Linked DNA regions of Homo sapiens: region 1 is linked to region 2. The links come from fine-mapping of genetic effects on gene expression. A gene starts in region 2. The other region holds a variant in brackets. All regions are shown on one strand. Distances are from middle to middle. Region 1 holds the start of OR4D9 (olfactory receptor family 4 subfamily D member 9). Region 2 holds the start of MS4A14 (membrane spanning 4-domains A14).

Region 1 (12,472 bases), 880 kb before region 2:
GTATGCTGGAAATTACAAAATGTTGATGAAAGAAATCAATCAAGACCTAAACAAGTGGAGAAGCATACTGTGTTCATGGACTGGATGATTCAACATAGTAAAGATCCCAATTCTCCCAAAATGTATAAGTTTAATGCAATTCTTACCGAAGTCCCAGGAAAGCTTTTTTGTAAACTTTTTTTTTTTTACAATTTAATCTTTTATTTTTATTTACATTTTATGTAGAATGCTTATAACTAGAAAGAAAGGTTTCTTTTTTATATATACTTTAAGTTTTAGGGTACATGTACACATTGTGCAGGTTAGTTACGTATGTATACATGTGCCATGCTGGTGCGCTGCACCCACTAACTCGTCATCTAGCATTAGGTATATCTCCCGACGCTATCCCTGCCCCCCCCACCCCACAACAGTCCCCAGAGTGTGATATTCCCCTTCCTGTGTCCATGTGATCTCATTGTTCAATTCCCACCTATGAGTGAGAATATGCGGTGTTTCGTTTTTTGTTCTTGCGATAGTTTACTGAGAATGATGATTTCCAATTTCATTCATGTCCCTACAAAGGACATGAACTCATCATTTTTTATGGCTGCATAGTATTCCATGGTGTATATGTGCCACATTTTCTTAATCCAGTCTATCATTGTTGGACATTTGGGTTGGTTCCAAGTCTTTGCTATTGTGAATAATGCCGCAATAAACATACGTGTGCATGTGTCTTTATAACAGCATGATTTATAGTCCTTTGGGTTTATACCCAGTAATGGGATGGCTGGGTCAAATGGTATTTCTAGTTCTAGATCCCTGAGGAATCGCCACACTGACTTCCACAATGGTTGAACTAGTTTACAGTCCCACCAACAGTGTAAAAGTGTTCCTATTTCTCCACTTCCTCTCCAGCACCTGTTGTTTCCTGACTTTTTAATGATCGCCATTCTAACTGGTGTGAGATGGTATCTCATTGTGGTTTTGATTTGCATTTCTCTGATGGCCAGTGATGATGAGCATTTTTTCATGTGTTTTTTGGCTGCATAAATGTCTTCTTTTGAGAAGTGTCTGTTCATTTCCTTTGCCCACTTTTTGATGGGGTTGTTTGTTTTTTTCTTGTAAATTTGTTTGAGTTCACTGCAGATTCTGGATATTAGCCCTTTGTCAGATGAGTAGGTTGCGAAAATTTTCTCCCATTTTGTAGGTTGCCTGTTCACTCTGATGGTAGTTTCTTTTGCTGTGCAGAAGCTCTTTAGTTTAATTAGATCCCATTTGTCAATTTTGGCTTTTGTTGCCATTGCTTTTGGTGTTCTAGACATGAAGTCCTTGCCCATGCCTATGTCCTGAATGGTAATGCCTAGGTTTTCTTCTAGGGTTTTTATGGTTTTAGGTCTAACGTTTAAGTCTTTAATCCATCTTGAATTGATTTTTGTATAAGGTGTAAGGAAGGGATCCAGTTTCAGCTTTCTACATATGGCTAGCCAGTTTTCCCAGCACCTTTTATTAAATAGGGAATGCTTTCTATTATCAAAACATGACAATAGGTTTGCTTGTTATTCATAAGGCTTAAAGAGTCGCCCTGGGCAGGCACAGTGGCTCATGTCAGTAATCCCAGCACTTTGGGAGGCCGAGGAGGGCAGATCACCTGAGGTCAGGAGTTCAAGACCAGCCTGCCCAACATAGTGAAACCCCATCTCTACTAAAAACACAGACACAAAAAGTAGCCGGGCATCGTGGTGGGCACCTGTAATCCCAGCTACTCAGGAGGCTGAGGCAGGAGAATCATTTGAACCTGGGAGGCAGAGGTTGCAGTGAGGCAAGATTGTGCCATTGCACTCCAGCCTAGGCGACAGAGCGAGACTCTGTCTCACGAAAAAAAAAAAAAAAAAGTCACCCTGAAGCTGATGAGAGAAACAGCACAGGAGAATTTAATATCAAAAGAAGATAATGGGTCAAAAATAAACCCTGGCTTATAGAGTAGCCAAGAGGACAGGCCCCATGGGATGGAACAGAGAGCCCAAGGAGAGTAAATTAGCCAAAGGATAATGAATGTTGAAGGATAGTGAATGTTGAAGACAAACTTTACTTAAGTCCCTCATTGGATCTGGCCTGGCCCTGTAAGCATTCATGAACTAACTGGCTCAAATGTTTGCCACTTCCTGTCACCTGATCAACAAAACCTAACTTCTTACAATATTAACTTACTTCTGCAAGCAAACAGATTCTAATAAAAAGTCACACTTGCCAGATCACTATTCATAGGGTCCTGCTACCTTTGCCCAAGTAGCTTTGGTCTCAAGAGTCCCTAGGCTTTTCTTTATGAAATTGCTTATGAAAAATACACACTACAAGCCACTTAATAGCCCATTTCACGCAAATCCGTCCTTTGCCCTTTTCTTTCTTTCCTAACTCTTGTGACTCACTCAGATCAAGTTTTTATCTCTATATCAGAATCAGATGACTCCACAGATCTATAGGGCCTGATTAAGAAACACAATCCCAAGAGATCAAGAACCCAGGAACTCTTGGCATATCATTGTCCCTGTTGACTTCCTCATGACCGTGTCTAAACATGCAACATAACCTGATTCAATAACTCAGGACAGAAAAAGCAATTGCATCTGATCACACAAACACTTATTGGCAGTGACATAAAATCACAAGTTGAGCAGCATTTTTCCCACTTACATTAGTTTTGACTAGTTTTTGTTTGTTTTGTTTTGTTGTTTGTTTTTTGAGATGGAGTCTCGTTTTGTCACCTAGGCTGGAGTGCAGTGGCATGATCTCAGCTCACTGCAGGCTTCGCCTCCCGGTTTCCAACGATTCTCCTGTCTCAGCCTCCTAGGTAGCTGGGATTACAGGCACACACCACCATACCAGCTAATTTTTGTATTTTTAGTAGAGATGGGGTTTCACCATGTTGGCCAGGCTGGCATCAAACTCCTGACCTCAGGTGATCTGCCCACCTCAGCCTCCCAAAATGTTAGGATTACAGGCGTGAGCCACCGTGCCCAGCCTAGTTTTTACTTTTTTTTTTTTTTTTTTTGAGATGGAGTCTTGCTCTGTCACCCAGGCTGGAGTGCTGTGGCGCGATCTTGGCTCACTGCAACCTCTGCCTCCCAGGTTCCAGTAATTCTCCTGCCTCAGCCTCCCAAGCAGCTGTCATCAATAAATAAAAATTGTATATATTTACAGTGAACAGTACAATGTGATGTTTTATTATACATATACATTGTGAAATGATTGTTGTATGCTTTCATTATTTTTTAAGCTCTGCTGCTAAGAACTGTAGAAAAGTCAACTGACTCTGGGCACACACGTGGATTTCAAACTGCTCTTTTATATATGTGCTCCCCAAATTAAATGTTTTCATAGTGAATATCTCTGGGTACGCATGAAAAAATAACATAAAATAATTATGCAGTAACTGAGTTGATGAATATCAAGAGCTGTACCTAGATGTAAAGTGAGCTATACATTTCAGAGATGTAGGTTAAAATAACTGTGGGGGCTGACGGGGCGCAGTGGCTCATGCCTATAATCTCAGCACTTTGGGAAGCCGAAGCAGGCGGATCACTTGAGGCCAGGAGTTCAAGACCAGCCTGGCCAACATAGTGAAATCTCATCTGTACTAAAAATACAAAAATTAACCAGGCACAGTGGCTCATGCCTGTAATCCCAGCTACTTGGGAGGGTGAGACAGGAGGATCACTTGAAGCCGGGAGGCAGAGGTTGCAGTGAGTTGGGATCATGCCACAGTACCACTCCAGCCCGGACAACAGAGCAAGACACTGTTTAAAGAAAAAAAAATGTCCTGGGACAATGTACATGTTGCTTTAAACAGAAAATGTGGCCAGGCGCCGTGGCTCATGCTTGTAATCCCAGCACTTTGGGAGGCAAAGGCAGTTGCATCACCTGAGGTCAGGAGTTTGAGAACAGCCTGACCAACATAGTGAAGCCCCACTTCTATTAAAAATACAAAATTGGCCAGGCATGGTGGCAGGCTCCTGTAATCCCAGCCACTTGGGAGGCTGAGGCAGGGGAATGGCTTGAACCCGGGAGGCAGCGGTTGCAGTGAGCCAAGATCGCACCATTGAACTCCAGCCTGGGCAACAAGAGCAAAACTTCATCTCAAAAAATAAATAAATGAATAAAATAGAAAATGCACGTATAAATCCATACAGTCTCTGAGAGCTGCTCTGACAGTAGCCACAGAGCTTTGAATTTTTCACTGTTACTCTTTTATTTATTTAAGTTTCATTTCCTAGCTGATTGCAGGCAAAGTGACTTTAGTCAAGAGGAAGACTGCACAGTCATTGGTGTGGTTTAACAAAACACTCTCTTCCTGAGCCAAAGAGGAAAATACACTGTCTCATGTGTTTCCTCTAGAGGAAAGGGTATGTCCTGAGTGCACGGGTGCCTCTGCATGTATGTATGAGAGAGAACAGAGAAAAAATGAGAAAGAGGGAGAGAGAACAAAAGAGAGAGTACAAGACAGAGAGTACTTGGTGACATTTTAATGACTCCCAAAGGAACTCCTGAGTTGTATTGTAGCGTATTATATTGGCCACTCAGCTTCCACATTCATACCTAACAATATTCCCTTTGCTAATTCCTATATTGGGCTGTGGCTGGAGACTAATACAGGTGGCCAAAATGTAGTAAAGTAGAAAAGAGTCAGAATACTGTAATTACCTGAGGTTGCTTTTTCCCATCTGAGGAAAGAAGATAATAAAATCACTCACTTTGAGGTAGGCTTTACATTAAACAGAGAATTTCCCCAGTACCTACTTCTTCTAAAATGCAGCTGAGGCATCATAAGAGGATCAATTTCCCACTTAAAGATTAAACCAGCAGTTAGTATTAGTGCCTATGAACTTCTGAAACTGAAAAGCTGTTTGTGCTGAATTTTGAGAAATGCTGCAAATGTGTAGAATGTTCCTATGGAAGTCAAGACTCTTAAGAAGCAAAGAAAAGAGGTAGTTTTTCACTATTAGAAAGAGGGAAAGTGTGGCTTGCAAAATATAGGAAGATGGTCAGTTGGCTTGGCTGTGTTTTACTTGTTGGGATATTGAGGTTCAAAATTTATTAAAGGTAGTTGAGAAGGTGCTGACGTCACCAGCTCTCAGGAGGATGACTGCCTTGGAAAAACAGCTTTTAAAGGCAGTAATTCCTGAGTTTAGTAGATGCAGTTTTGCCTCTTGGCTGGGAATGAAATTTTGGAAGATTTGAGTAAGATGTTTTAATGACAAGATTATCTGTGCCTTCATGTACCACTGAATAAGAATAATGCTTCTAGTAAAAGTTTTAGGGATTCAATCAAGAATAAGGGATTTTCAAAATTGGAAAATAGAAAACCGTGATATGTGTGGCATCCTAGAAAGTCAACTTAATGTAGAGAATGAGGAAGAATTTGCTCAATGGGATGCTGGGGTATGGGGGGGAATCCTCAGTTTGCAGGCTCTGTCCAAGATACTTGATAAGCTTGTTTCCAAAGAAGGGTCCCCTTTGGGATGATTTTTTTTCTTTTTTCTTTTTTTTTTTTTTTTGAGACAGAGTCTCACTTTGTCACCCAGGCTGGAGCCTGTAGTCCCAGCTACTCGAGAGGCTGAGGCAGGAGAATGGCGTGAACTTGGGAGGCGGAGCTTGCAGTGAGCCGAGATTGTGCCACTGCACTCCAGCCTGGGCGACACAGCGAGACTCCATCTCAAAAAAAAAAAAAAAAAGAACATCTCAAATCCATACGTGAGTAAAAAATAAAACGGTAACTCTTGAGTTGGTCACAGTGGCCCATGCCTGTAATCTCAGCACTTTGGGAGGTCCAGGCAGGTGGTTCACTTGAGCCCAGGAGTTTGAGACCAGCCTGAGCAACATGGTGAAACTCAGTCTTTTTGTAAAAATACAAAAAAAAAAAAAACAGCCAGGCATGATGGTACAACCTGTAGTCCCAGCTACTGGGGAGGCTGAGGTGGGAGGATCAATTGAGCCCAGGAAGCGGAGGTTGCAGTGAGCCACGACTGCACCACTGCACTCCAGCCTAGGCAATGGGAGTGAGATCCTGTCTCAAAAAAACAACAACACAACAAAATGTTTACTCTCAGATGATAGCTGGTGATGACTATAACCACGTAACTATAAAAGTAACTTATAAAAGTGAGTGGTCCATTAAATTTTGCTTTAAATGTAATTCATTCTTTAAACATGAGATTAAAGTGTTATAAATGATAAATGTTATGTTTGTTAGTTAAAACTTTATACTGAAGTATGATATGCTAACATACAGAAAAACGCACATACATGTACAGCTCAATGAATTTTTTTTTTTTGAGATGGAGTCTCGCTCTGTCACCAGGCTGGAGTGCAGTGGCATGATCTCAGCTCATGACAACCTCCGTCTCCTGTGTTCAAGTGATTCTCCTGCCTCAGCCTCCCAAGTAGCTGGGACTACAGGCGTGTGCCACCACGCCCAGCTAATTTTTGTATTTTTAGTAGAGACGGGGTTTTAACATGTTGGCCAGGCCTCCACTCACCTCAGCCTCCCAAAGTGCTGGGATTACAGGCGGGAGTCACCATGCCCGGCCAACTCAATGAATGTTTTTACACCAGCAGAATATGCCTACTGGTGTAAACCAGCACCCAGAAGCCTCCCTTAGGCTCCCTTCAGTTTTGTACATATGAATAAAATGGAAGAGTGCATACTCTTTGGTCCCTGGATTATTCAGCACAACATTATGTTTGTGGGATTCTCTTATATTATTACGTATAGTGTAAATCATTCTCATTGCTGTATAGTATTGTGTGAACGTAACA[C/T]AGTTTATTTATCTTTTCTACTGTTGATGGATTTCTGAGTCATTTTCCAGTTTGAAGAAATTATAATCAGTGCTACTGGTGAGGTGTGGTGGCTCATGCTTGTAATCAAACTTAAGAGGCCAAAGTAGGAAGATCACCCGAGGCCAGGAGTTTGAGACCAGCCTGGGTAACATAGGGAGACCCCAACTCTATAAAAAAATTAAAAATTATTCCAGCATAAAAAAATAAATAAAAAGAAAAAAATTATTCAGGTGTGGTGACAGGCACCTGTAAGTCCCAACAACTAGGGAGGCTGAAGTGGGAGGATCGCTTGAGCTCAGGAGTTTGAGGCTACAGTGAGCTATAAGCTCACCACTGCACTCCAGCCTGGGCGACAGAGTGAGACCCTGTCTCAAAAAATATAAAAAATAACAGTGCTGCTATGAATATTCTAGGACATGTCTTTTGATGAACATATGTACATATTTCCTAGAAGTAGAAATATGTCCTTAAGAGATATATAGGTAATGATATACAGATAGATCCTTTAAAAGAGATATATCATCATACATGTAGATATATACATATCCTCCTATGTATAAAACTATATTTATATACTGTCTTAGCAGAGATAATCAAATAGCAAAGTGGTTATACCAATTTTACACACCCACTAGCAGTGTATTAGAGTTCCAACTGTTCCACATCTTCACCACCACTTTTTCATCTTTTCAGTTTCTATCTTTTTCAATTTAGCCAATCTGGCATGTATATTGTGGCTTATTGCTATAACTAATGAAGTTGAATTGGCATTTGGATATGCCTTTTGTGAAGTATTGGTTTCAATCTTTCGCCATTTTGAGGTTGGGTCATCCAGCTTTTTTACTGATTTGTAGAGGCTCTTTATATATTCTGAACATGAGTCATTTCTCAGATAAATGTATTGTAAATATCTTGCTCCATTTGCAGGTTATCTTTGAATTCTCATAATGATGCTTTTATGAACAGAAATCCTAATATATTCAGATTTCTTCTTATTATTTATTATTTTAAGTGTCAGATTTTATAGTGAAAGTACAATTGAATAGATTCACGGACTTGCAACCTCTGTTTCAGCAGCAGCAGTGAGAGAACTTTGTCTCCTGGGATGACTGAATCAAAAACCTGGGTAATCTTTCATCCAGTGGTGGCATACTGACTTGCAGACACAGTGAGTGCATAGGGAAAAGAGCTTCCTCCTAATTCTGAGCCAAATCTTAAGTGAAAAGACAACACTAGATTTTAGGACCTATCAATATTATTTAACTGCACTATTATTTCTTCCAGAGATGAACCTGATAAAGGATCTGTGATTCAATGGATCAGAGAAATTACACCAGAGTGAAAGAATTTACCTTCCTGGGAATTACTCAGTCCCGAGAACTGAGCCAGGTCTTATTTACCTTCCTGTTTTTGGTGTACATGACAACTCTAATGGGAAACTTCCTCATCATGGTTACAGTTACCTGTGAATCTCACCTTCATACGCCCATGTACTTCCTGCTCCGCAACCTGTCTATTCTTGACATCTGCTTTTCCTCCATCACAGCTCCTAAGGTCCTGATAGATCTTCTATCAGAGACAAAAACCATCTCCTTCAGTGGCTGTGTCACTCAAATGTTCTTCTTCCACCTTCTGGGGGGAGCAGACGTTTTTTCTCTCTCTGTGATGGCGTTTGACCGCTATATAGCCATCTCCAAGCCCCTGCACTATATGACCATCATGAGTAGGGGGCGATGCACAGGCCTCATCGTGGCTTCCTGGGTGGGGGGCTTTGTCCACTCCATAGCGCAGATTTCTCTATTGCTCCCACTCCCTTTCTGTGGACCCAATGTTCTTGACACTTTCTACTGCGATGTCCCCCAGGTCCTCAAACTTGCCTGCACTGACACCTTCACTCTGGAGCTCCTGATGATTTCAAATAATGGGTTAGTCAGTTGGTTTGTATTCTTCTTTCTCCTCATATCTTACACGGTCATCTTGATGATGCTGAGGTCTCACACTGGGGAAGGCAGGAGGAAAGCCATCTCCACCTGCACCTCCCACATCACCGTGGTGACCCTGCATTTCGTGCCCTGCATCTATGTCTATGCCCGGCCCTTCACTGCCCTCCCCACAGACACTGCCATCTCTGTCACCTTCACTGTCATCTCCCCTTTGCTCAATCCTATAATTTACACGCTGAGGAATCAGGAAATGAAGTTGGCCATGAGGAAACTGAAGAGACGGCTAGGACAATCAGAAAGGATTTTAATTCAATAAGGGTAAGATAGTACCCATATTTAAAGATAGACATTAAATTTCACTTTCTCAAAATGGGAAAGGAGCTTGTTCATGCCCAAAACAAAGAGATACCTATGGCCACCATCGAGTCCTAAAAGAAGTTATTCCATCATATATGTTGGGGACCACGTGGATGATACTGCTCTAAGACAAAATCCACTCAAGTCTTTCCCTACTCACTTTCAATTATTCATTCCACAAATTTTTATAGAGCATACACTATATGTCTGAAAGTACTGGGATTCAGATTGCTGCAAAAAGATTAAATGTAGTCACCTTCCTGGAGGCATAACCCAAAATACTTATTAAAAAATATAAACAGGCCAGGCGTGGTGGCTCACACCTGTAATCCCAGCACTTTGGGAGGCCAAGGCAGGCAGATGACCTGAGGTCGGGAGTTCAAGACCAGCCTGACCAACATGGAGAAACTCAGTCTCTACTAAAAATACAAAGAAAAATAGGCCAGGCATGGTGGCGCATGCCTGTAATCCCAGCTACTCGGAAGGCTGAGGCAGGAGAATCACTTGAACCCGGGAGGCAGAGGTTGCAGTAAGCTGAGATCACACCATCACACTCCAGCCTGGGCAACAAGAGCGAAACTCCATCTCAAAAAAATAAAAAAAATAAAAAATAAATAAACAAAGTGCTAGGGGAACTGTAGCCACAATATTACTTGAGAGTTTCCAAAGACATTTAACAGCCAGTAGACATTTTCAAGGGGAAAAAGATCAGAAAAGAACAATCCAAGCAAGGAAAACAACATGTACTTGTCCACATGAGGTGTCTTATGCCTGTAATCTTAGCACTTTGGGAGGCTGAGGTGGAGGGATCACTTGAGCCCAAGAGTTCAAGACCAGCCTGGGCAACTTAGTGAAACCTCATCTCTACAAAAAATCATGATAATAGGCCGGGCGCGGTGGCTTATGCCTGTAATCCCAGCACTTTGGGAGGCCAAGGCGGGTGGATCACAAGGTCAGGAGATCGAGACCATCCCGGCTAACATGGTGAAAGCCCATCTCTACTAAAAATACAAAAACAAAATTAGCCAGGCTTGGTGGTGGGTGCCTGTAGTCCCAGCTACTGGGGAGGCTGAGGCGGGAGAATGGCATGAACCCGGGAAGCAGAGCTTGCAGTGAGCCGAGATCACACCACTGTACTCCAGCCTGGGCAACAGAGCAAGACTCTGTCCAAAAATAATAATAATAATTAATAAATAAATAAAAATTAACCAGACATGATGATGCACACCTGTAGTCCCAGCTACTTGAGAGACTGAGGCAGGAGAGGTTGAGGCTGCAGTGAGCCATGTTCACTTCACTGCACTCCAGCCTGAGCAACAGATCAAGACACTTGTCAAAAAAAAAAAAGAAAAGAAAAGACAAAAAGAAACCAGCATGCGCAAAGAAAGAAAATGAGGTGAGATTGTGCCACATTTGTGTAACAGTGAACTCAGTGCAGCCATGGCGTAATACACTCTTGGGGTGAATACTGGTACTGGACCTTTAAAAGAAAAGTTGGGAAGAATAACTCCATTTATGACCACCTGAACAATGCAAGCCCATGATTTCTGTTGAGGAGAGAGGATCCCCAATTCACTTCAAGGACATAATTTCCTCCTAGGAGAAGGAAATAATGCTGTTAGTGAGAGTGTTCATAAAGAAGAATCACTGTTGCCGGGCGCAGTGGCTCACGCCTGTAATCCCAGCACTTTGGGAGGCTGAGGCGGGTGGATCACGAGGTTAGGAGATCGAGGCCAGCTTGACCAACATGGTGAAACCCCATTTCTACTAAAAATACAAAAATTAAGCCGGGTGTGGTGGTAAGCGCCTGTAATCCCAGCTACTCAGGAGGCTAAGGCAGGAGAATTGCTTGAACCTGGGAGGCGGAGGTTGCAGTGAGCCAAGATTGTGCCACTGCACTCCAGCCTGGGCGACAGAGCGAGACTCCAACTCAAAAAAAAAAAAGGAGAAGAATCACTGTTGAGGCTGTGGACAGCTCCTTTGATTTTGAGAAAAAAATGAGCAAAGGCAGATGCCAAGCTCTCAAATGGGAAGCAACTGACTCCCCCTTATATAGCAGGATTAGCCAGATCCAAATTTCCTGTTGTTTCTATACACAGTGATCTCACCACTCCTTTACCTGTGCCACTCAATCTATTAGAAGGTAAAGAAAGGGTATAAAAAGCATGATAGTTTAATTAGTGAACCTGAGAATTTGCCAGTCTCTGTTGTGAAAGAGACAGGGATAGTGCTAGGAGAAGATTTATCTGACAATCCAGCTGATACTCTGCTAAGATCTATTGACTTCACCATACTGTGTTCCCCACTATGATAAAGCTCAAGCCATAGCAGCTGGCACACATTTATCAATCAGAGTAGGCCAACCACTGCAACAAAAATGTCCACGGTCTAAGTAGTTAGCCACAACAAAAGTTTACTTCTTGCTCATGTCACAGGCCAATGCTGGTCTGCAGAAAGAGGGCACAGTGCCACACTGTCATTCAGAAATGCAGGCTTCTCCCGTCTTGGGCTCCACATTCTCTAGATCCTCAGAATCCTGTCCATGATCCAGCAGATGGAGAAAGGGAGAGAGAATTAAGAATAAGTGATTCTCCTGCCTCAGCCTCTTGAGTAGCTGGGACTACAGACATGCACCACTATATCTGGCTAATTTTGTATATTTTTATTTTCATAGAGATGAGGTCTCACTAAGTTGCCCAGGCTGGTTGAAATTCTTGGACTCAAATGATCCCTCCACTTCAGCCTCCCAAAATGCTAGAATTACAGGCATGAGACACCTCACCTGAACATGCTCATGCTGTCTTATGCTCCACAGTCTCTAGATCCTCATAATCCTGTTCATGCATCCAGCAGATAGAGAAAGGGAGAGAAATTAAGAATTATGGGGAAGGGAGGGGTGTGTCTTTATGGGACAGTCCTGGAAGTGGTGTGAACTACTTATGACCACTTTCATTGGCCAGCCCTTGGTCACATAGCCTCACCTGACAGCAAGGGAGCCTGGAGAATGAAATCAAACTCTGCTCTCAGAAAGAAGAAAATATGAAGAATGAACTCTAGTGATCTCTTCCACATGTAAGATTCACTGCTAAGAAATCACAGTTGGGTTACATTACAAAGATTAAGACTTTGTCTATAAAAGGATTCTCTTAATACATAAAAATGTTTGCTACAGGGCTGGCTGCGGTGGCTCATGCCTGTAATCTCAGCACCTTGGGAGGCCAGGGAGGGTGGATTGCTTGAGCTCAGGAGTTTCAGAACAGCCTGGGCAACATGGCAAAACCCCATCTCTACAAAAAATATAAAAATTAGCAGAGCATGGTGGCACACGCCTGTAGTCCTAGCTACTCAGGAGA
Region 2 (12,472 bases):
GTGGCTCAGAAATGGATTATCTATCCTCATTGCCTTATTCGGAGTACTATTATCCAATATATGAAATCAAAGATTGTCTCCTGACCAGTGTCAGTTTAACAGTGAGTAGTTTCAGACTGAATATCCTGTCATGTGAAATCTCTGTGTCTCCCCTTTGCATACTCTCTGCTTTTCTGGCAGTCTCTGGTTGGTCGGTCCGAATGCCTGGAGACAGACAGAAATAAACAAAAACTTGTGGTTGGAAGAGGCCTGTCTGCTGACTGCATGGTGTGGGGGATGTACTATAGAAAGTCAAAAGAGGAAATCATGAAGGACAGTAGGGAGTCTATCCCTCCACTGGTCTTTCTTAATCACAAACGTTCCAACCTTAATGGGTTTAACTCTTAAAGTACAACCTTTGTTGTACTCATCACAGGCAGAAATATTCTTCCTACTCATCACAGGCAGAAATATTCTTCATTTGAATTATATTTTAATTTGGGATTCTTTTGGGTTCTTTTCCAGGGGTTGGATGCCCCTACCCCTTAAAGATGCTTGTCTTCTGATCATCAGTGAATTGAGGACTAGCAGAGGCTGTACGGTGTTTAAGTTAATCTTCAAATGCAAGCCTGTATGCTACATTATGTTAGGCACAAAACTTGAACCTTAAGTCCAAATACATAGTTATTTTGTACTTTGGTCTAACAGGGCTGACAGAGAGTGGTGGGAAGGGAGACAACGGATTTGACTTCTAGAAAAAATGTCAACCTCTCTGGGCAGCATTTTCTTGGCACCTTTCTCCCAAACTTGATGATCACTACCTGTTCGTGGTGACAAGCCTTGCTTATTCAATCCTATAAATATAGTATCATGGTGTTAAAACCATAAACCAGTGGCCTTTTAAGAAGAAAGACTTCTTCCTCTATGAATCCTCCTAGTAGGAGCACAGGGAACCCAAGGTAGTATCTCTCATTCCCTTGGATCCATCTATCTCACAAATCTCAGAAAATGTGTGCAAGCTTTTGCACTCCTGTGGGTCTGCTCATGTGACCCAGAGATTGTCAAAAGCAACCCCTTTGGTTCAGGAGCTTGAGGAAGTGGAAGAGCACAGAGACCTGTCTGGAGGAAACCCAGTAGATAGTGTCATCCTGGTGTAGGACAGACATGTGGTAAAGCAATGGGGGTGGGAGAGGCATATTGGGGGTTTAATTTAAAGAAAATGAATTTCATTACCCCAAACTGCTTCCCATTCTGAGACAACTGGAGTCCAAAAGAACTTCCTACAATATGAGAGAAGTTGCAACATAGCAGACTAAGCAGACTCCAAAGGCCTACTCTTTGTTAATTAACACAGCAATTACCTGAACAAAAGTAATGAAATTTTAAAAATTAAAAAATATATAGCCAAAGTTGGAAGAAGAAAGGAAGGGAGGGCAGAAGGAAAAACAAATCTAAGAAGAAAGATGACTTAGGTTCCAGAAGCTAAGAAGGATCCTAAAGCCAAATCATCAAACAAGAGCTGAGGCCAAAATACCAAGGAAGTCTGAATAGGAATATTGGTATTAGAGGCTAGGATCACACAGTTTTAACATCCATGACAAGATTTGGCATTGGACAGGGCCATAAAGCTCATATGGAGTACCCTGCAAAAATGTTGAAAGCTGATACTGAATATTTACTCAATTTGTGAAAATAATATAAGGAAAATTCTGCCCAACATCCCAAGAAGTTTCAAGAAAACCTTCCGTCAGCTCACTAAGCTTTGTGCAAGTGTGCCATCTGAATTCATAATTACATATAAAATAGGGGGACCTCAAATAAAAGCATTAAGTTAAAAACTGTTACGAGATATGTGAAACTTCTAAGGTTCTAGCAGAATCAAATCTAAAACTACTATCTAAGGAGATGTCCGTAAACCCAACTTATAAGATGCCTCCCTATCAAAGAACCCTACCACTACCACCATCTACAAACTGAAGTTATCTAATAACCAAAATATTATGAGAAACATAACAACAGCACAAAAAAATGAGTAGCGGCAGCAAATGGGGAAACATGAAAGTCAGAAGCTCAAGAATTGGAGATAACATAATAATTTGAACAAGGCTATTATGAAAATACATTTTAAATCATTAAAGATGTTTAAAAAGTAATAGAAACCAGGCCAGGTGCAGTGGCTCACAACTGTAATTCCAGCACATTGGGAGGCTGAGGCGGGTGGATCACCCGAGGCCAGGAGTTTGAGACCAGCCTGGCCAACATGGTGAAATGCTGTCTCTACTAAAAATACAAAAATTAGTCAGGGAGGGTGGTACATGCCTGTAATCCTAGCTACTTGGGAGGCTGAGGCAGGGGAATCACTTGAACTCGGGAGGCAGAGGTTGCAGTGAGCTGAGATCACACCATTGCACTCCAGACTGGGTGACAGAATGAGACCCTGTCTAAAAAAAAAAAAAAAAGTAATAGAAACCAAAATGGAAAAAAAAAAAAAGGACAGTAAAGGAAAAAAAAGATATGTGCATTTGAGAAAAAAATGAAATCACATACTTGGAAATGAAAATTGTCTTTGAAATTAAAAACTGAGCAGATCAGTTAAACAGCAGATTCAATATATTCAAGGAAACAAAGAGTGAAATGGAATTTAGATTTGATTAAATCACACAGAACACAACACATTATGTGTGTTTGGAAAAGATGGATGAAAGCCTAAAAGGTATGATGGATGCAGGGAAGTGGAGAGGTTCAGTACATATCTAGTAGGAGTCCCAGTGAGAGATTATAAAAGAGAGAGTATATGCAAAAGTAAATAACTAGAAATTTTTTAGAATTTAATAAAAACATGAGATTTCAGATTGAAGGAATGCATTGAGACCACTGCAGGATACACAGAATCAAATACACACCTAGAAATATCATCATGACAATAAAAACACCATAGTCAAAAAGAAAATAATAAAAGCAACCAGAGATAAGTGGCAGATTACTCTCATCTATCATTAGGTGGGATACCAAAGTTCTGAGATGATGCCGTTGCTGCTTATTTCCCTTCATCTATTAAGAAATCTGAAAAAGAAAGCAGAAAAGAGGATTAAGCAATTTTCCCTGTCTCCTTTTCTCTGCATTGCTGGAGCCTCATCGCCCTGTCTCCTCTTAGCCAGGCACAAGGGCTAGCTTGTCTTGGGTACCAGCCATTCATGTCCTGATTTGCAGGGTGTCCTAGTGGTGATGCTCATCTTCACTGTGCTGGAGCTCTTATTAGCTGCATACAGTTCTGTCTTTTGGTGGAAACAGCTCTACTCCAACAACCCTGGGGTGAGTATGCTGACATGTCGCCTGATACCTGCTGTGTCTCAGGTCCAGGCTACAATAATCCAACCTCAAAAAGTGGCAAAAAGAAGAATCAATTATTGTTCATGAGGTGCATGTGGAAGGCCACTTTTATAATTAAAAAAATGAGTTTAACAGTGAAACCCCATCTCTACTAAAAATATGAAAAACTAGCCAGGTGCAGTGGCACACGCCTGTAGTCCCAGCTAGTTGGGAGGCTGAGGCAGGAGAATTGCTTGAACCCAGGAAGTGGAGGTTGCAGTGAGCTGAGATCACACCACTGCACTGCAGCCTGGGTGACAGAGTGAGACTCAGTCTCAAAAAAAAAAAAGAGTTTGTATAAATGGGCTCCTTCTGGAGGACACTCTGGTCATCTGGGATCAGCTGGTGTCTACTGGGAAGCAGACCAGTTAGAGAATTGCTTAATATGAAGCTAGTTGGTTTTAGAAATCACATAGCCCAACCCCTCATGAAAGAACCACGGCTTGGATAAAATTACATAGAAAATGAATGACACAGACTATTGGGCTGAGAATGAGAACGCGTATCCCCTCACTTTTATCGGGAACACAGCTACCTGCCTCCCGAGAGAGTCTCCCTAGCCAAGTTTCCTTGTTAATGTGATGAGACTTTACTAGAATGTCTCTGTCCTGTTTATGCTTCCCTGTGCTCTTCCTTACATCCCCTTAGCTCTTGATGTTATAATTTTAAAATATTTTCATTTCCCCTAAAGGCTACAACAACAAAAGAAATGTTTATAGAATTTGGATGAATTATGATTTAACTATGATCCTATTTAAAATAGTAAAATAATTAGCAGACTGGAGAATTGCATTATTTTTAATTAATATTGCTGCAATTACATATTATGGCAAAGTTGGAAGAACTAGTACTACACAAAACTTGGGGAAAAGGTATTATGAGTTATCTTTTTTAATCTCCGAAATCAAAGTTTAAAAATTCTAACCAATTATGTATTTTCTAGAGTTCATTTTCCTCGACCCAGTCACAAGATCATATCCAACAGGTCAAAAAGAGTTCTTCACGGTCTTGGATATAAGTAACTCTTGGCCTCAGAGGAAGGAAAAGCAACTCAACACTCATGGTCAAGTGTGATTAGACTTTCCTGAAATCTCTGCCATTTTAGATACTGTGAAACAAACTAAAAAAAAAAAAGCTTTTGTTTTGTATTTGTTTACTATGAGTCGTTATTTAATTTCTCTTGAAAATAATTTCCTCAAAGCCCAAGTCAATAAATGTTATCAGCCAGTCTTCCAAAATGGTCATAAACTTTATAAACTGCTTTGGGTAAACTGAGCAGAAGGTGATACACAGAAGGGAAAATGTGCACTCATGCTAGTGTGAATTTGGTAAGTTGCGTGACTCTGCAGGCTGTTTCTGTATTATTTTCACACTCATATTGCTTAAATATTACATATTAGGGATTGTAAGAAAACTTTAATTAAAAATTAAAGACTATATATAATTAAACTACTCTGCCCTGGACACTCTCTGAGAAACAGATCTACTGGGCCCTTTTTCATGAGCCATTAGGTGGAAGACAGCAAAGAGATCTTCTCAAGTGCTTAGGATTACCTCTCAACACACAGCAAGCATGTCCCTGCCTCCCATGAATCTTACCATGTAAATCCAAATCTCTGCAATCCTGTGGCACCAACCAGTGGTGCTCATTCTATTGTTTAAAAATGGCCTTCTTGGCTGGGCGCGGTGGCTCACTCCTGTAATCCCAGCACTTTGGTAGGCCGAGGTGGACGGATCACCCGAGGTCAGGAGTTTGAGACCAGCCTGGCCAACAAGGTGAAACCCTGTCTCTACTAAAAATACAAAAAATTAGCCAGGCATGGTGGTGCGCACCTGTAGTTCCAGCTACTTGGGAGGCTGAGGCAGAAGAATCACTTGAACCCGGGAAGGGGAGGTTGCAGTGAGCGGAGACTGCACCACTGCATTCCAGCCCGGCCTACAAGAACAAAACTCCATCTCAAAATAAATAAAAAAATAAATAAAAATAAAAATAGACTATATATAGTCTTTGAATTCATTTATTTTAAATAAATGAATAAAATAAAATAAAAAAGAATATTCAGTCGTTGGCACATAAACTATGTTCTCTTCTGTCATTTCAGGGTAGGAGTCAATGAAGACATCTTAGTCTTAACAAGTTACAGATAATCTCTGACTGGCATGTTTTCTGCTTCTAGCTTGGAGCTAAATGCTGCTCATGCTGAAAAGAATAATGTCTATTTCTTTGTTTGGGTATTAGCTCTATTTTGATCTATAGCACAGTTTTGTAATTCAGATCATCACCCCTGCACTTTGTACCACATGGGCGTATTCTTTCTTCCCAGTCATTGCTGCAATTATCTTGTCTGTTCTTTGTGTAATATGTTCTGTGTGAGCCTCTGCATTAAACTCGATTTCTTGGGCAATTATGGAAATTCCAGTGTGGCTGCAGTTTAACTTTGCACTCTCTATGCATATGAGGTTTCCTAAATAAATGAGGAGTAGCATAGTTTAAAATATATATATCTTATAACTTTCTACAACAAAGAATTATTGAGTCCAAATGTCATCAGTGCTCATTTTGAGATACCCTGCTATCGATGGTCGCTACAAACCAGGAAATACTCAAGTTATTATGTGTATACATTGGTTTTAGTTTTATGAAACAATTTACCTTCATGATCTCATAGTTAAAATTGTAATAAATTTAGGAATATAAAGGATCAATATGGGAAGCAAAATTTCTAAAGGCAGTTTCTGTTGTTTTAATTAGTATTTGTGTAGTTCAAACCAGGAAGGATTTGACTATCATTAGATTTTGCTTAACTTTATGAAAGCTAAAATATTCTCTGTTATAAAGGGGCAACTCCATCTGGTCCTATAGCATCTTTACTACTGATTTTTTTTTGTTTAATTTGAAAATGCAAAGAATTGTTAAATGTTCTTAAATGTTCTCACTACAAAAAAAGAAAAAAGATAACTACGTGAGGTGATGGATATGTTAATTAGCTGGATTGTGGTAATCATTTTGGAATGTATATGTATATCAAAACATGTAGTACACCCTAAATATATATAATTTTTATTTGTCAAATATACCTCAATAAAGATGGAAAAAAATCGAAATTCAAAGTTATCTACTGATTTTTATAATACAGAGAAATATGGTTAAACAGTAAGTTAGAAAATTCATCAAGTAAAAGAAACTCCTTTCAAAGGAGGGCAGAAGCGTGGCTGAGTTTAAAAAACATAGATTTTGGAGACAGGTCAAGTTGAGTTTGCCCCTTCCCTGTCCTGTATGTCTTTGGGTGACATAACCTTGCTGTTCCTCAGTTTCAGTATTGTAGAACTGTTAAAAGAATAAATGTTAGTGCATGTCAACACCTTCTACACAGTTCCCAGAACATAAGGAATATTCCATAAGTTTTAGTTCCTTTATAACTCATGAACATATGTGTAAGGACTTGTTTCGTATATACCATCTATTCTTTGTTTACCATATGTTTGTAAGCAAATTGACAAGAGAGTAAGTCTTCTGGATACAGTACTTTTCACCAGGAAGATGGGGGGCTGAGCATGCTCTAGAATTCTAAAACTCTGTGACTCAACTATGATTCTGAGATTCTACTACTGAGTAGAGTCATCACTAAGGGCTCATCTCTGAGGGCTCCATGTGACTCTGGTGGAGAGGTAGATCATGATTTGGGCGGCAATGTTTGCTCACTCTTTCCCTTACTAGAGTTCTGCCATAGAATCATGGAGTCAACATCCCAGGACAGAAGGGCAACTCACGTCATCACTATAAAACCAAACGAAACTGTATTGACTGCATTTCCCTACAGACCTCATAGCTCTCTGCTGGATTTTCTGAAGGGAGAGCCAAGAGTCTTGGGGGTAAGTCCTCTCCAGTCAATAGGTCTTCCAGAAGGGGAGAAAAGAAGTTTATTTATTCATGTATGTCTGCAGAGATATGCAGAGATTATTTTCAGGGAGGGAGTTAATTCTACTTTTCCCCCTTCACCTTACATGAGAAATTAGTACTGATCTTTGAATCCCAGCAGAGGGGGAAGCAAGAAACTAGTATAACTTTTTAAAATATCTCATTGAGGAAGTGACTTCAGGGTGTGGTGGCACCTCCCTTGAAGCTAAGAAACCATAAGTGGAGAGGTTTGACTTCCCCTTCATGCTCTTAAAGGAATTGGGAGTGCTTCAAAACCCATATTCAAAGCTCCACAGTGAACCAAATGATAAGGCATGCAAAACGTTTTTCATCACAAATGCACCCAGGGGAGAGCTGTATGCACAGCCTCCATCCTTTGTACAACAGCAAAAATCATTACTTGGTGTGCCACAGCCCAGAGATGTGGCCTGGGGACAAAATCTAGACTGCCAGAGAAGTTGCGCCCTGAGAACCACTGCTGCTATTCTTTTCCCTGCAGATTCCTACAAGCTGATAGGCCCACTGGGCTATTCTCATCCCTAGTTGGGTCCATGGATGAAGGGGAGGTGAAATGCAAGCTCATCCCAGGTTCTCCACTCTATGTCATCAAACTTTTTAAATTTTTAGACAACTGGGATGAGCCCCAATTCCAAAAGCCTATACTGAGTGCTGGAAAATGTGGGGGTGGGGGCTGTTAGGATAATAATAGGATACTGGTGAGACAGACGAAAAAACAAATGTAAAGGTGAATAGTTTATAGTCCCTGTGCTCAAGAAGCTTATAATCTGGGGGTAGTCAGACATGTACTCAAATCTGTCTGATATAAGATTAATTGGTAACACCAGGGAAGATAGAAAATAATAAAGAATAAAAGTGAAGGATTTGAACCTGAAGGATCCAGGCAAGCAAAGTGGGAAGGAAACACATTGAACTGAGTCTCTTAACAATCTGAGAATGATTGACAAATGAGAGAGGAAGGCATTTGGATGGAGGGAAAGGTGTGCCATGGAGGCACACCCTGAGGGACGTGGGGTAGCCCACAGGGTCTTGGATACTTGTAACCTCATGTACCCATTTCTCTCCTCACAGGCTACCCAGATCCTGCTTGCTCTAATCATTGTGGGCTTTGGAACTATATTTGCACTTAATTACATCGGTTTCTCCCAAAGACTTCCCCTTGTTGTCCTCACAGGATATCCATTCTGGGGAGCACTTATTGTGAGTACTGTCGATTAGAAGCTTTGGAGAAATTGCTATAAAGATAGATTTGAACTGCTTCACGTCCTAGGGTAATGAATTCCATAAATATGGCCCTCCAGGAGACCAAAAAAGGCAGCTCCCTTCACGGCAAAAGAAGCAACTCCATTTGGTCACTGCACTACCATCATCATTGTAATAACTACTCTCAGGTGCTTAAAATTTGTTTCCAAAGCCCTTGTGTGTATAGTAAGACATTTGCTCCTCAATACCAACCTGGGAGACTAGATGCACAAATATCCTACTTATTCCTTTGCAAATAAGGAAACTGAGCTCAAAAGTAGAGAATAACTTAAACATATCTAGCCTAGCTAGCACTCATGGAATCACAGACTCTGAAAGCTTAAAAAGAATTTTAAAATTATTATCACTCATCCTCCTTCTTAGCCCCAGAGACAACTTTATGAGTGGCACTCATCTAGATAATCATATAGCCATAAATATTATTCTTAATACAGTGCTATTTCTATCCAATCCCCACAGCCTGGATTCCTAATTTTGTGCCATAATATTTAAGGACAGACTCATTAGAGCTTCTCCTACTATAACATACACTCCTGAGAAGACAGCAGTGTTACTGTCTGTTTTAGTTGTTATATTCTGAGAACCTAGAATCATGCTTGAGGCATAGTGTGCATGAACGAACGAATGAATCAATCAATCAATCAATCAACAAATAGGTGAAATAATTAATAAATTAGGCCACTATCTCTGACTATTAAAAATCCACAGTCTCTTTTGATAAACAGAAATACTCCATGCCTTTTCTATAATGTGCATTTCAGAAACAACCAGCAGTGTTTTCATTTTCCCAATATAAATAATGTAATATTCAATATGATTTTCAAACTATACATGCCATACTGTAGAAAATCAAACAGACCAACCCCTCACTTTCTCATTTCACAACAGAATTGTCCCAGTGTGACTTTGTGTACTCTGCATGTGTGAATTAAAATGAGATTCTGGCATGCTGCTTTTGAAAACTCTACTTTTCACTTAAAAGATATTTACTGAGCACATACCGCGTCTTCAATGGCATCCTAGGTGCTGAGACTGAGAATACTGGAAAACAGCTCCTCTCTGAGAGAAGTGGTGAATTGTTCTTAGATTTAGACAGTTTGTCATCTAACTGGGAGACTAGACATGAAAAAGTCAAAAGTAACCCCAAATATTTGTTCCTACACTTGTGCTAAGTGCTCTAAGAGGAGAGTTCCAGGTGCGATGTGAGGGTTTAATAGAGGACTCACCTGACCATGGAGGTCAGGCAAGTGCTTTCTGCGTAGCTGCTCACTAGGCGAAGTGGAAGGAAAGCATCCCTGGCAAAGATAAAGCATGAGCCAAGGGCTTGATGTGGGAAAGAGTAACCAAAAGAAGACCAATGAATCTATCGTGATGGCATAAAATGAGGCTATAAAGGTAGGGTGTAACCAGGTCGTGCCAACCCCTATAGTCATGTTAAGAAAATGGAACTTCAATGTGAAAGCATGGGAAAGCCACTGAACGTTTTTAAAGAGGATAGTGACACTTGAAGACTTGTTGAAGTATCATTGTGTTTTTAGAGTGAGAAATTAATTCAATTATAACAGTAAACCTAGGAGAATCCAATGAGAGGAGGCTACAAACACACAGATGAGGAAAGAGTTTCCCGAACTAGCTTGGTGGCAATGGAGCTAGAGATGGAGAGCCTTGAGAGTGACTCGGAGGTAGAAGTGACAGGACTTGGCAATCCAATGTGGGGAGTGAAGCGGAGGGAGGTATCAAAGGTAACTTTCTGATCTCTGCAAGTCAGCTGCAGATCCTTGGACTCTAAGACCCAGATGTCCCCAAGGTCCAAGGCCAGTTCCCACAGAGAAGGTTCCCATCCCCAGAACATTAAAAAAGTAAGGGACTCCACATGGAGTGACAGAGTTCTCATTTTCCTGAGGTGGTACTAGGCTCTACGATCATGGGAAATGAGGGACTCTGATAACTACACTAGATATCAGTCCCCATATCAGCCTTTAGAGGGGTCTTCCTTGAGAAAGTCTCCCTTCACCTGCTCAGAACAGGCACAGCTCCTCCTCTTCTCTTCAAGGCCCAGAGCTCAGGAATCTCTTTTTGGAGCCCCAGCCGGATCAAACATCTGGTCCTCTGGATCTTAGAGGAGCCTGCCTGTCCCAGTTGGCCCTGGCAGAGAGCGCTTGTTCAGTGCTGAGCAAATCCAGCACAAAGTTTCTTCCTACCCTACCTACGCCTACCTTCCCTACTCCCTGATGCTCAGGTGGAAAAACGGGATGGTCTTGGAGATTCACAAACAGATATTTTGCAAATCCAAGGGAAATTATACTGCAAGGTGGTCAAACACATCACCTGTTAACTTTTGTCTCTTGTCTTCTTAACAGTTTATTCTTACAGGATACCTCACAGTAACCGATAAGAAATCAAAACTTCTGGTAAGCCACTTAAACTACATAAAATTTAAAATCTTCTATTTGTTTTATATCATCTTTATGTATGAAGCCTTTAGTAATAAAGTTACCTTTCAGGAAAATCTGTATGCATCAAAGTTGCAGTTCAGATCATTCCTATTTGCCAGTGCCACTGTTTGCCTGACAGACATTCTTACACTTGTTCCCATTTCCCTGGTCAAGTAAACTAAAAGAGTTGTTTATTGGAAACCATTCTGCATCCCTGTAATTCATTGTTTGTAATTAGGGGTAATTCCCTGCCCTGCACCCCCCAGGACCCAGAAATATTGGACAACATCTGAAGACATTTTTGGTCATTACAACTGGTGTTATTGGCAACAAGTGAGTAGAGGCCAGGGACATTTCTAAGCATCTAAAATGCACAAGGCAGCCTCCCCCCAACACAAAAATTATCCAACAAAAAATGTTTATAGTACCAAGGTTGAGAAACCTTGCTCTAACCAAAACCAATCCTAAGCTCTCACTAATTCTTCCTCCCAATCCTAGCCCTATCTCCAATACCAACCGAGGCTTTTCTTTAGATCCTGCCCAAGGTCTGGAAGAAAGAGTTTGGGCATCAATGCTGGATTGTTCTAGGATTGAACCAAGGCTATCACTCACTTCTGTGTTAACCTGAAGGGAAAAGTGCCTACTTCTAAGGGTTATTTTGAGAGTTTAATGAGACATTACTGATAAAAGGCAAGATGATGCTTAAATGTTCATACTCCTTTCTAACCACTCTGATCTTGTTTAAGGTCCTGGGGATGTGGGCCTCTCTGAAAGTCAGTTGAACTCTGTTCTTATGGTCCTCTGCCAGTTTCCTCTAGGGATAGTTACAAGGCATAGAGACATTCTGAGGGGAGGGCAGATAAATGTTTCCATCCCTGCTTATGGAAATACATGCAGACAATGCAGATGAAGCCCCAAATGCTGTTCTCCCTGTATTGACTTCCTTCCAGAGCTGAGAAATAAACTATGGGTAAGGAAAACCTACTCCTGACTCACTGAGAGCTATGCAGATGGAGGTGTGCAGGAATGATGGAGGCAGGATGCTGAACCAGGCATCAGAAGACCTGGCTTTTCATCACAGCCCTTCCACAAACCGTGAAAGTGATTGCTCACAGTCACTTACTTCCTTAATTCCATTTATCTGTAAAATGTGGATAACAACAAGTGTCCTTCCTACAGCACAAAAGTATAATGAGAATCAGAAGAGACTAGGCTGGGCATGTTCTTTGTAAAGCCCAATACACATGAGGGATTGATTATCTAGAGATCTTAGTCTATAAAATGTCCTATGGGAGCCAAAATAGAGCCTTGAGAAAACAAGGGGACTAAAGACCAAGAGAGAGATGGCCTATCTATATGTTCCTGTGCATTTTCTGCCAAAGTGCCTATTTGCAATAAAAACCTGGGATTGAGGTAAACATTAAGTCACAAGTACACTTCTGAGGTTTGCCACACCAAGCCACAAACTTCCAGAAAGGACTGGCTGTGT

What was found. PIP is the estimated chance that this variant, and not a neighbour inherited with it, causes the effect.
Region 1: its variant is fine-mapped to the expression of MS4A14 in atrial appendage (GTEx, PIP 0.94).

Annotation. Positions count from the first base shown.
Region 1 is chr11:59,506,780-59,519,251 of GRCh38, forward strand. It overlaps OR4D9 (olfactory receptor family 4 subfamily D member 9), which reads left to right and starts at 4,760. Exons shown (of 3, transcript NM_001004711.2): 1 at 4,760-4,967; 2 at 7,894-7,987; 3 at 8,104-12,472. The coding sequence starts at 8,134. The coding sequence ends at 9,078. The variant C/T (reference allele first, on the strand shown) is at 6,799.
Region 2 is chr11:60,389,496-60,401,967 of GRCh38, forward strand. It overlaps MS4A14 (membrane spanning 4-domains A14), which reads left to right and starts at 6,964. Exons shown (of 5, transcript NM_032597.5): 1 at 6,964-7,221; 2 at 8,357-8,485; 3 at 10,909-10,959. The coding sequence starts at 7,084. It overlaps MS4A7 (membrane spanning 4-domains A7), which reads left to right. Exons shown (of 7, transcript NM_021201.5): 5 at 1-101; 6 at 3,190-3,291; 7 at 4,292-6,453. The coding sequence ends at 4,366. RefSeq lists an enhancer at 2-71.